Homo sapiens: one gene and its partners. The protein of the gene in region 3 interacts with the protein of the main gene of each other region in a pairwise test. Each region holds a gene or a part of one and is shown on either strand. Other genes may lie near its edges. The genes, in order: RAPSN, GUK1 and UBE2Z.

Region 1 (3,719 bases), on a different chromosome or scaffold from region 3:
GGGCCATGAGCCAGTACCACATGGCCGTGGCCTATCGCCTGCTGGGCCGCCTGGGCAGTGCCATGGAGTGTTGTGAGGTGGGGCAGCGGGGAAGGGGGCAGGTCGGGGATGAGGTGGTGTGGGCCAGGGGCTGGGGCCTGGGACAGCAGGGCTTCCTTCTTCCAAATCAGCCCATGGAAGCCCCCTAGGGCTTGCCTCTGGCCCAGCCTCTCTAAAGGCGTGCACCACCATGCACAGCTAATTTTATTTTTGTAGAGACGGGGTCTCACTAAACCACCCTCCTGTGCTGAAGCGATCCTCGTGTCTTGGCCTCCCAAAGTGCTGGGATTCCAGGCATGAGCCACTTGTGCCTGGCCCAGTTTTTATTTTTTAAATGAGATGAGTTCTCTACAGCTGAACCCCTGAAGGAAACATTTGTCCCCCAGCCTCATCCCAAACCCACTCCCTTCCAATCCATCTGCAGGGGAGGGGGCTTCCTTCTGCCCCAACACCCTATATGGGGTACTTTGAAGGGTAGAGACGGAAGAGGGCCAGTTTCTGGAGTCCCACTGACCTGGGTTCACATCCCAGCTTTGTCACTTACTGGGTGACCCCAATCAAGTCACTTCTCTTTGAGCCTCACTTTCCACCCACCTTGCTGGGTGCTGTGACTTCAGTGGTTCAGTGTGTGAGCCCTCAGCACCATGATAGATTCACTAGGCTCTGAGGATGTTGCTTCCCTGGGCTGTCCCTTCAGAGGGGTCTGTTGAGGGGAGGGCACTCCAGTGGTGGTGGCAGAGGAGTAGGCCTGAGCCACTGGCCTCCCTCGCAGGAGTCTATGAAGATCGCGCTGCAGCACGGGGACCGGCCACTGCAGGCGCTCTGCCTGCTCTGCTTCGCTGACATCCACCGGAGCCGTGGGGACCTGGAGGTGAGGTCACCGGGATGCAGGGGCTGGGGGCAGGGGGCAGGGGCACAGGCCTGATACAGCCTGATTCCATCCCCCACCTGGCTCTGCAGACAGCCTTCCCCAGGTACGACTCCGCCATGAGCATCATGACCGAGATCGGAAACCGCCTGGGGCAGGTGCAGGCGCTGCTGGGTGTGGCCAAGTGCTGGGTGGCCAGGAAGGCGCTGGACAAGGTGAGGTCGGGCCTTTCCCACAGCCTCCAGCCCTCCCAGCACTCCCCACTTGGGGCCAGTAGGTTAGCCGGCTCTTTCAGCCACTTTGTCTGACGTCAGCCTCACCCTGATCCTACGAGGCCAGGACATTCCTGGTCATTTTCCAGGCTCAGAGAAGGCCCATCACTTGCCCTAGGACCCACAGCTAGTAAAGGGCTGGAACCCTGGGTAAACTGAGGCAGGAGGTCACTTGCCCACACAGCCCCTATGACTGTGCCCTAGTCTCTTCCTGCTGCCTTCACACACAAGGCAGCTGCCATGTCACCCTCCCTAGGCCTGCCCCCCTACCCTGTGCTTCCCTGTGAGCAAGGCCTGTCAGACAGCTCTGCCCGCAGCCCTGGCCTATGCTCACCTTCCAGGCTCTGGATGCCATCGAGAGAGCCCAGGATCTGGCCGAGGAGGTGGGGAACAAGGTCAGACTTGATTCTGTGTCCTGGATCTGGGGTCAAGGGCCCAAGTGGGGAACTTGGGTCTGGGGAAGGGCCTTCCTGAGCCTACTCACGTCATGAGCCCTTCCTGATGCTGGGAGCTGCCTGCAGCCAACCCCATACTCTGGCTCTTTCTCTGCCACACACACAGCACTTCTGAGGGCAGGGCAGAAGTTTCATAGCTTGGAGGATAGCAGAATTCCTCAGAAGCTTCCTGATGTTGATTAAAACCCCTAACAGTGGGCTGGACATGGTGGCTCACATCTATAATCCTAGAATTTTGGGAGGCCGAGGTAGGAGGATCACTTGAGCCCAGAAGTTCGAGAGCAGCCTGGGCTACATAATGAGACCCATGCTCTAAAAAAGAAAAGAAAAGAAAAGAAAAAAACATTTTTGAGATTGAGTTTTGCTCTTGTCTCCCAGGCTGGAGTGCAATAGCGCGATCCCAGCTTACTGCAACCTCTGCCTCCCAGGTTGAAGTGATTCTCCTGCTTCAGCCTCCTGAGTAGCTGGGATTATAGGCACCCGCCACCACACTGGGCTAATTTTTGTATTTTTTATAGAGATGGGGATTCACTGCGTTGGCCAGGCTTGTCTGAAACTCCTGACCTCAGGTGATCCACCTGCCTCGGCCTCCCAAAGTGCTGGGATTACAGGCATGAGCCACCAGGCCCGGCCTCTACAAAAAATGTTTTAAAATTAGCCAGCTGTTGTGGCACACACCTGAGGTCCCAACTACTTGGGAGGCTGAGGTGGGAGGATAGCTTGAGCCCAGGAGGTCAAGGCTGCAGTGAGCTGTGATTGCTCCACTGCACTCCAGCCTGGGTAACAGAGTGAGACCTTATCTCAAAACAAACAAAAACTAACAGTGGCCTCCACTCCCTGAGCACTGAGCACACACAGGGTCCTTATGGGTACTGGGTCCAGTCCTCACTCTCTCCCTGTGAGGTGAGTACAGCAAGCCCCATTTTACAGATGAGGAAAAGTGAGGCTCAAAGAGGCGTCCAAGGTCCCACACCTACTAACTTGTCTGTTTTAACTACAAAGCCCATGTTCCAAATTTAATAATGGTATCTAGTGCTTGCTTTGGCAGCCCATATTCTGAAATTGGAACAATACAGAGAAGATTAGCATGGCCTAAAAACCAAAACCAAGGCCGGGTGCGGTGGCTCACACCTGCATTTTGGGAGGCCGAGGTGGGCAGATCACCTGAGATCAGCCTGACCAACATGGTGAAACTCTGTCTCTACTAAAAATACAAAAATTAGCCAGGTGTGGTAGTGCACGCCTGTAATCCCAGCTGCTTGGGAGGCTGAGGCAGGAGAATCACTTGAACCCGGGAGGTGGAGGTTGCCATGAACCAAGATTGTGCCACTGTACTCCAGCCTGGGTGACAGAGCAAGACTCCATCTAAAAAAAAAAAAAAAAAAATCGTCATAATCTTATTAAAACCTTAAAATCTTGAAAACAGGTTCACCACTTCTCAAAGCCTTCCAGATGTGCATTTCTACGAGATCCTGTGCACAGTCCAACCAAAATGCCAAAATTTGGTTGGATTATAGCCACTCTGGTTTACCTGGGTATCAGGCTGATCAGAAATGCTGATGAGCTATTGTGTGTATATTTAATTAATAAAAACAGGAAAGCAGATTAATTATTATTTTTTTTTGAGACGGAGTTTCACTATTAGAGCCCAGGCTGGAGTGCAGTGGTGCGATTTCGGCTTACTGCAACCTCCGCCTCCTGGGTTCAAGCGATTCTCCTGCCTCAGTCTCCTGAGTAGCAGGGATTACAGGCACTCACCACCACCCCCGGCTAATTTTTGTATTTTTAGTAGAGATGGGGTTTCGCCATGTTGGCCAGGCTGGTCTCGAACTCCTGGCCTCAGGTGATCCACCTGCCTCGGCCTCCCCAAGTGCTGGGATTACAGGCATGAGCCACGGCGCCCTGCCGCAAATTATTATGGAGTCTGTGCACCAGGTTTGGTCATAAAATCTGTCAAAAACATGGGGTCTCCAGGCAGTTCTGGGGGGTGAAGTCTTCTGATCTCACCCACCGCCTCATTCTGCATGAAAGGAAGCAAGGTCCCAGAGAGGGCAGGACATTTTTCCAAGGTCCATCAGCAAGACA
Region 2 (3,819 bases), on a different chromosome or scaffold from region 3:
AGCCTCGCCAAGGGCGTTGTCTGCGCAGCTGTGCCCACTCTCGCCCAGCACAGGGCACGAGGCACACATGACACACCAATTGCCAAGAACTCTGGACGGGCCAACACTCCGCTCTTCCTGGGTCCCCTGAGTTCGGCTCTGCCCAAGCGTGAGGGCACAATGAGCAGACTACTGGGGGCCCTGGCCAGCCAGAGAGTGCAGAGGGCAGACAGTGAGTGGATGCGGGCCTTGCAGAAGCACAGCCACACCACCACCGCTGGAGACAGGGCGGAGGCACAGGCTGCCTGCCTGCCTGGGGAGAGACCAGTGGCAGGGCGGTCACCAAAGCCACCTTCCATGGAGCACACCCAAGGGAGAAAACTGTGGCCCAGGCCTCAAGGCTCCTGCAATCTTGCGGTGGAAACCACGGAGCCTTTGCCCTGACCAGAACACATGCGCCAAAGGTGTCTTCCTGTGGGCAGAGGGAAGCATTCCAGCAAACATTCTGTGCTCTCCACTCTCACCAACCCACAGTCGCAAACTCCAATCAGCTGCCTGGCAAGAAGCCACACAACCCACAACTGTAAGGACCTGCCAGGCACGTGGTCTCCACAGGAGCTCCGAGATGGAAGGTCTCCTGGGAGCCGCCGGCGCAGATCCATGTTCCGGAATGGTCTCTGCCAGAACGCTCCCTGGACTGGGCTCCCATGCTGCCCCAGCAGCCGCTTTCCTGGAAAGGCACTCCCTGCTGTGGCGGCATAATCTCCTCCTTCTGGCTTCCAGCCATCCTAAGGACTGAACAGAGTCACCACCTTGCCCCCGGCCCACTGTTCGAGGAGATGCTAACAGAGGGCTTGACCTTCTGAGAACCGAGAGAATTCAGCCCCCGCCTGGCCTCTCGTAAGACACAAACCACCAGACGTGGGCCTGGGCTCTGGGCTGGGCCAGGTGGATGAAGGGGAGGCTGGTGGTCCAGGCGGCTGCTCTTGGCTGCAGGGTTTCTGGGCACACATCCGGGTAGCACGCATCCTGGCCTTCAGCAACCTCGTTTTAAATGGGACCACACCAGGAGCAGCCAGGGCGCTTTCATTTTCACTTTCTTTCCCCGGGGGGGACAGGAACATTCCTTTACCTCCTGAGGAAATCGGGCTCTTCCAGAGCCACAGAGGAGTGAAGGCCCCAGCCCTTCACGATGCTGCGCGGCTATGTTTGGGTCTGTCCATCAGGGAGAAAGAAAAACCGGCCGAGTCTTGCACAGGGTCCTCGACAGCAACCCCAGGTAAAGAGCAGAGCAAGCCTGAGACAGGAAGGGGCCATGAGCCCAAAGACAGCAGAGCAGGACCCAGCCCGGGGCCTCAGGACCGACCTCTTTCATGCAAAGACGAAACCGAGGCCCACCACACGCAGGGTCAAAATCAACTTTGAGGCACCTGCTTCCCACACCAGTCCTTACTGGGGCATACTTCTAAGGCGACGCTCAAGAATGGCAGCAGGGCAGCTTCAAGAACCCCAACCCGGACTCTGGCTTTGGAGAATCCGAACCCCAAATGCCACACCCATGCGTCGGGAAGGCCTGCTGTTTCCCCAAGTCCCCGTCTCTGCGCCGTGCCGCGGAGTAGGCAGAATCCTGGGAGCCCCGGAATAGCCGGCTCCATCCGCCCAGGACCCCAAGGCTTGCAGGGTGAGGTGGGAACCGGAGCGCACACCGCGCCGGGCCAGCGGTAGGGACTCCCAGCTGCTCTCTTTGGCGGCGCGCCCAGGTGTCGGGAAGACACCGAGCGCTCCTATACGCCCGGGGAGCAGCTCGACACTGCGATAACTGCCGGCCTGCCCAGCTCCTGAGGAGCGCCCCGCCCTCCGGGACCCGGGCTCCGCTGCGTTGCCAGCCCGTCCGCCCTCCAGAGCTCCCCCGTTCTCAGGGCCCACAGTTGAATGCGGCACAGGGCGTCTCGGCTAGGAGGAGATCCGGAGGCGGCGTGGACTGGGCGACCGCAAAGCGCAGGGACCGCTGCCGCCTCGACCCGAGTCACCCTCGCGATCGCGCTTGTCGTACTCACCGTCCGGTGGGGCCCGGCCCAGGGCGGCCGCAGCCAGCCCGGCCAGCGGGCGCCGCAGCATCCGGGGCCACCTCTTCCGCCCACTGAACCTACGTGACAGCGCCGCACCGGCCCACCTCCGCCCGCGCGCGAGACTGACGTCATGAGGCGACTGCCCCGCCCATGTCTCACTCGTTCTTCCCCGCCCCTTAGGGAAGTACTTACCTCAGTGCCTCGCTAGCCCCGCCTCCACCTGCGCTGGCCTGTCGCGACCGCAGGGGCGTTCAGCACAGCGCCCTCCCAGCCCGTCTTCTCCCGCTGCGTCACAGCGCCACGCCGGCCCGCCTCCACACAGCGCGAACTAACATCACGACCCGCCGGCCCCGCCCACGGCGTACTTGTCCCGCTTGTCACTCAGAGAAGTACCTCAGTGCAGCGCGGGCCCGGCTTTCATCTGCTACGTCACAGCGCTGCCTCAGCCCGCCTCCTCCCGCTTATGTCACAGCGCCGTTTCCGTCCTCCATCTACACTGCAGGGACCTAACTAACGAACGACTCCGCTAGCCCGTTCCAAACCGGCCACTCTCCAAAAACCATTAATTGGGGAATGTGGCCGGGCGCGTGGTTCACGTCTGTGATCCCAGCTCTTTGGGAGTCCGAGCCGGGAGGACCGCTTGAGGCCAGGAATTGGAGACCAGCCTGGGGATCATAGGGAAACCCCTTCTGTACCAAAAAATTTAAAAACTTTTTTGTGCCTGTAGTCCTTGCTACTCGGGAGGCTGACGTGGGACGGTCGCTTGAGCCTGGGCAGTCGAGGCTGCAGTGAGCGGTGTTCGTGTCACTGCACTCCAGTCTGTGTGACAGAGCGAGACCCTATTTCTTTCTTTTTTTATTTTTTGAGACGGAGTTTCGCTCTTGTCACCCAGGCTGGAGTTCAGTGACGCCATCTCTGCTCACTGCAACCTGGGCCTCCTAGGTTCAAGCGATTCTCCTGCCTCAGCCTCCCGAGTAGCTGGGATTACAGGCGCCCGCCACCACGCCCAGCTAATTTTTGTATTTTTAGTAGAGACAGGGTTTCACCATGTTGGCCAGGCTGGTCTTGAACTCCTAACCTCAGGTAATCCACCAACCTTGGCCTCCCAAAGTGCTGGGATTACAGGCGTGAGCCACTGCACCTGGCCACGGGACTCTATTTCTAAAAATTATTTTAAATTTTTAAAAAAGATTTATTGAAGGCTGGGTGCAGTGGCTCACACCTGTAATGCCAGCACTTTGGGAGTCCGAGGCAGGCAGATCACCTGAGGCCAGGAGTTTGGGACTAGCCTGGCCAAAATGGTGAAACTCTGTCTCTACTAAAAATACAAAATCAGCTGGGTGTGGTCGTGGGCCCCTGTAATTCCAGCTACTGGGGTGGCTGAGGCAGGAGGATCACTTGAACCTGGGAGGTGGAGGTTGCAGTGAGCCGAGATCAAGCCACGGCACTCCAGCCTAGACGACAGAATGAGACTCCGTCTCAAAAAAAAAAAAAAAAAGTATTGAATGTGAACTGCAGGAGAGCAAGAAAAAAAGTAAAACTTTAAAAAATACAACTTCAAAAAAATGTGTTGGGGCTGGGCACCATGGCTCATGCCTGCAGTCCCAGCACTTTTGGAGGCCAAGGCGGATGGATCACTTGCCCCGGAGTTGGAGACCAGCCTGGGCAACATGGCAAAGCCTTGTCTCTATTTTTTTTAAATACTAATAATAAAACAGTTTGTTGGACAAGGGATTGTAACCTGGAATACATGTGCTATGTCATACCATAG
Region 3 (3,500 bases):
AGCCGAGATCACACCACTGCACTCCAGCCTGAGTGATGGAGTGAGACTCTGTCTCAAAAAAAATTTTTATTTTTCATTTTTGAAAGGCATTTTATTATCCTTTGTTCAGGTCTATAGAGGAAGAATCAAAGTTGGTGTCATATGTAATAGTTTAAAAATAAATTAAGTTGGCCAGGCATGGTTGCTCACGCCTGTAATCCCAGCACTTTCAGAGGCCAAGGCGAGTGGATCACCTGAGGTCCGAAATTCGAAACCAGCCTGGCCAAGATGGTGAAACCCCTTCTCTACTAAAAATACAAAAAATTAGCCAGGTGTGGTGGTGCGTGCCCGTAATCCCAGCTACTCGGGAGGCTGAGGCAGAGGAATCACTTGAACCTGGGAGGCAGAAGTTGCTGTGAGCCGAGATTGTGCCATTACACTCCAGCCTGGGTAACAATAGTGAAACTCTGTCTCAAAAAATAAATAAATTAATTAAGCTGTTCTAATCACCTATCCGGAATCATTTTCTTTTGGGACTATCACTGGAACTTTTTCCCGTGCTCATGAGTAATTCAGGAAGGCACATCGGAAGAGTGGGAGAAGTTGGGCTCCAATGTAAGTCTGGGGTCCTATCCTGATCTGTGTGTCTTTGTGAAAGTTAATTAACCTCTCTGAGGCAACATTATTTCACTTGAAAATGGGAATAACCATATTTAACCTCACATAGTATGAAGGTTAAACAAGAAATTATATATAAAAACTTGGTAGTGTCCAGCACAGAGCATGCTCTTGGAAAAATGTGAGTTTTCTCCACCTTCTCGTTGGCACTGTTAACTCAAAAAGTCTTGCCCGGGACTCCTAATGACTAGCTCCTTTGACTCTGCAGGTAACAGTCCTTCATAACCCCAGAAGAACAGCTGGCTGGGTAGTAGTCCCTACAGAGCAACTTTAGGGGATGCTGAGAATATAGGCACATAGAACCCACTGGATGCCACAACCCCCAAAGCAGGTCAGAATTAATTTCCAAAGGAGTCCATTGACTTCCATGCTATAAAGGAATCCAAGTCACATACTTATTGTAACTCTCACAAATAAAAAAATTCATTATTATTATTATTTTTTTAAGACGGTGTCTCGCTCTGTCGCTCAGGCTGGAATGCAATGGCCCAATCTTGGCTCACTGTAAGCTCCACCACCTGGGTTCACGCCATTCTCCTGTCTCAGCCTCCGAGTAGCTGGGACTACAGGCGCCTGCCACCACACCCAGCTAATTTTTTGTATTTTTAGTACAGACTGGGTTTCACTGTGTTAGCCAGGATGATCTCAAACTTCTGACCTTGTGATCTGCCCGCCTCGGCCTCCCAAAGTGCTGGGATTACAGGTGTGAGCCACCGCGCCTGGCCATTATTATTTTTTTGGGGGTGGGGGGACCGAGTTTCGCTCCTTACCCAGGCTGGAGTGTAATGGCGTGATCTCAGCTCACTGCAACCTCTGCCTCCAGGGTTCAAGTGATCACACCCAGCTAATTTCTTTTATTTTTAGTAGAGACAGGTTTTCACCATGTTGGCCAGGCTGGTCTCAAACTTCTGACCAGTTAATTTTTAGTAGAGATGGGGTTTTACCAGGTTGGCCAGGCTGGTCTCAAACTCCTGACCTCAGGTGATCCACCTGCCTGCCTCAGCCTCCCAAAGTGCTGGGATTACAGGTGTGAGCCACAGTGGTCGGCAAAAAATTTCATTACTAAAAAACACGTGTCAATTCCCTTTTTTTCCCTATACCAACAAATGTAGTACATGGGGCTGTGCTAGGTCCAAAACAAAACAAAACAAAACAAAACAAAAAAAACCTCCCAAGCAGATCTCTTAAAACACTATTCTGGCTGGGCGCGGTGGCTCACGCCTGTAATCCCAGCACTCTGGGAGGCCGAGGCAGGCGGATCACCAGGTCAGGAGCTGGAGACCAGCCTGGCCAATATGGTGAAACCCCATCTCTACTAAAAATATAAAAATTAGCCAGGCATGGTGGTACACGCCTGTAGTCCCAGCTACTTGGGAGGCTGAGACAGAATGGCTTGAACCCGGGAGGCGGAGGTTGCAGTAAGCTGAGATTGCACCACTGCACTACAGCCTAGGTGACAGAGGAAGACTCTGTCTCAAAAAAAAAAAAAAACAAAAAAACCAACCAACCAAACAAACAAAAACAATAGTCTACACCCCAGAGCCAGGCCCATCTGGCCTTACCTGTTCAAAGCCGGGCTCATTGTGATAGGGGTTCTCAGTCATCAGGGACTGGATAGAGATGAGCACTGAGGAGATGCTCTGGGCTGGGCTCCAGGCAGGTCCAGTCCATGTACTGTAAACACATCAGAAGGAATGGAGGGTGAGGCAGAGAAAGAATAGGGAACAAGTACCCTGGGGCCCGGCAACACCACCATAAGTGACTCACCATAAGTTTCTCTTTCACTATTAATACTCTGGAATTTCCCAGCCTCTGTCTCATGCTCATGTTCTGATTTCACCAGAAATCAGTCAATTGCCTAATCCTCAAATCAAGGGGGGGGGGCAAAAGAACAGGTAATAGCAAGCTATGTAACTTTGAAGGGATTTTCTTTGTACTAGAAACAGTTACGACAATCAAAACAAAAGAAATTAGGTAAGCAATTAGCTCCAAAGTTGTCTAAATGTTAATCTCCGTGGATCTCAAAGAGCTTGTTTATGGGTGGTGATGGAGTTAGTGAGGGGAGAGGGAAGTTGAGCATAAAGGGACACAGGTGACTGAAGCCATCTGGTTAGAGGCCATGTGGTGGGGCTATTGGGGATCCAGTTCTGTATCAAACCCCCAAGGAGTGTCAAATTCTCTTAAGACTACACAACTCTTCCAAAGAACAGGAAGAGAATAAGGGGTGCTTCCAGACAGTGGAAGGTCTGAAAATAATATATGGAAAACGTCAAATACCAAAATTGCTCCTCTCTTTCATAAACCCAACCAAGTATTAGGGGGAGGGGACAGCTTGGATGTTAATGACATTTATTTTTAGCTCAATTAATTGAAGAGATGGCACCGGAGCTGGAAGCCGAACACAACCTAAGCCAGGACTGGCTTGTTCAAGTTGACTGCCTGCTTCTGTTTCCCTGCTGTACTTGAGGAAAGCCCAAGTCAGTAATGCCTAATAGTAACTTCACTGGGGACTGCTCTTAAGTGCCTCTATCTTTTCAGCTTTGCTCCCCCAGGAACTCTAGACCTACTGCTCTCTGAAGCTTTACAACAGAGTCAACTCTCGTTAAATTTCTTTTGTCAGTAAGTCAGCCCAACATTGTTTTCTAGGTAAAGAGGAAAAAAAAAACATGGCTGATAAAGCTAATACAGTCAACTAGGAACACCTAAGAATTTTCTTTTCTTTCTTTTTTGAGACAAAGTCTCCCTCTGTCACCCAGGCTGGAGTGCAGTGGCGTGATCTTGGCTCACTGCAACCTCTGCCTCCCAGGTTCAAGCAATTCTTGTGCCTCAGCCTCCCGAGTAGC

The links.
Region 1: the proteins of UBE2Z (region 3) and RAPSN interact in a two-hybrid assay, tested with the Homo sapiens proteins (one large-scale study listed by BioGRID and IntAct).
Region 2: the proteins of UBE2Z (region 3) and GUK1 interact in a two-hybrid assay, tested with the Homo sapiens proteins (one large-scale study listed by IntAct).

What each region holds. Positions count from the first base shown.
Region 1 is NC_000011.10:47,439,014-47,442,732, reverse strand, and holds part of RAPSN (43 kDa receptor-associated protein of the synapse), read left to right. Parts: coding exon 1-77; intron 78-811; coding exon 812-910; intron 911-999; coding exon 1,000-1,122; intron 1,123-1,435; coding exon of another isoform or gene 1,436-1,520; coding exon 1,521-1,574; intron 1,575-2,666; exon of another isoform or gene 2,667-2,727; intron 2,728-3,665; coding exon of another isoform or gene 3,666-3,719. UniProt on the Homo sapiens protein: Postsynaptic protein required for clustering of nicotinic acetylcholine receptors (nAChRs) at the neuromuscular junction. It may link the receptor to the underlying postsynaptic cytoskeleton, possibly by direct association with actin or spectrin.
Region 2 is NC_000001.11:228,138,581-228,142,399, reverse strand, and holds the start of GUK1 (guanylate kinase), read right to left. Parts: upstream 2,122-3,819; 5' UTR 2,098-2,121; coding exon 2,037-2,097; exon of another isoform or gene 767-2,036; coding exon of another isoform or gene 571-766; intron 1-570. UniProt on the Homo sapiens protein: Catalyzes the phosphorylation of GMP to GDP. Essential enzyme for recycling GMP and indirectly, cyclic GMP (cGMP). Involved in the cGMP metabolism in photoreceptors. It may also have a role in the survival and growth progression of some tumors.
Region 3 is NC_000017.11:48,914,907-48,918,406, reverse strand, and holds part of UBE2Z (ubiquitin-conjugating enzyme E2 Z), read right to left. Parts: intron 2,332-3,500; coding exon 2,220-2,331; intron 1-2,219. UniProt on the Homo sapiens protein: Catalyzes the covalent attachment of ubiquitin to other proteins. Specific substrate for UBA6, not charged with ubiquitin by UBE1. May be involved in apoptosis regulation.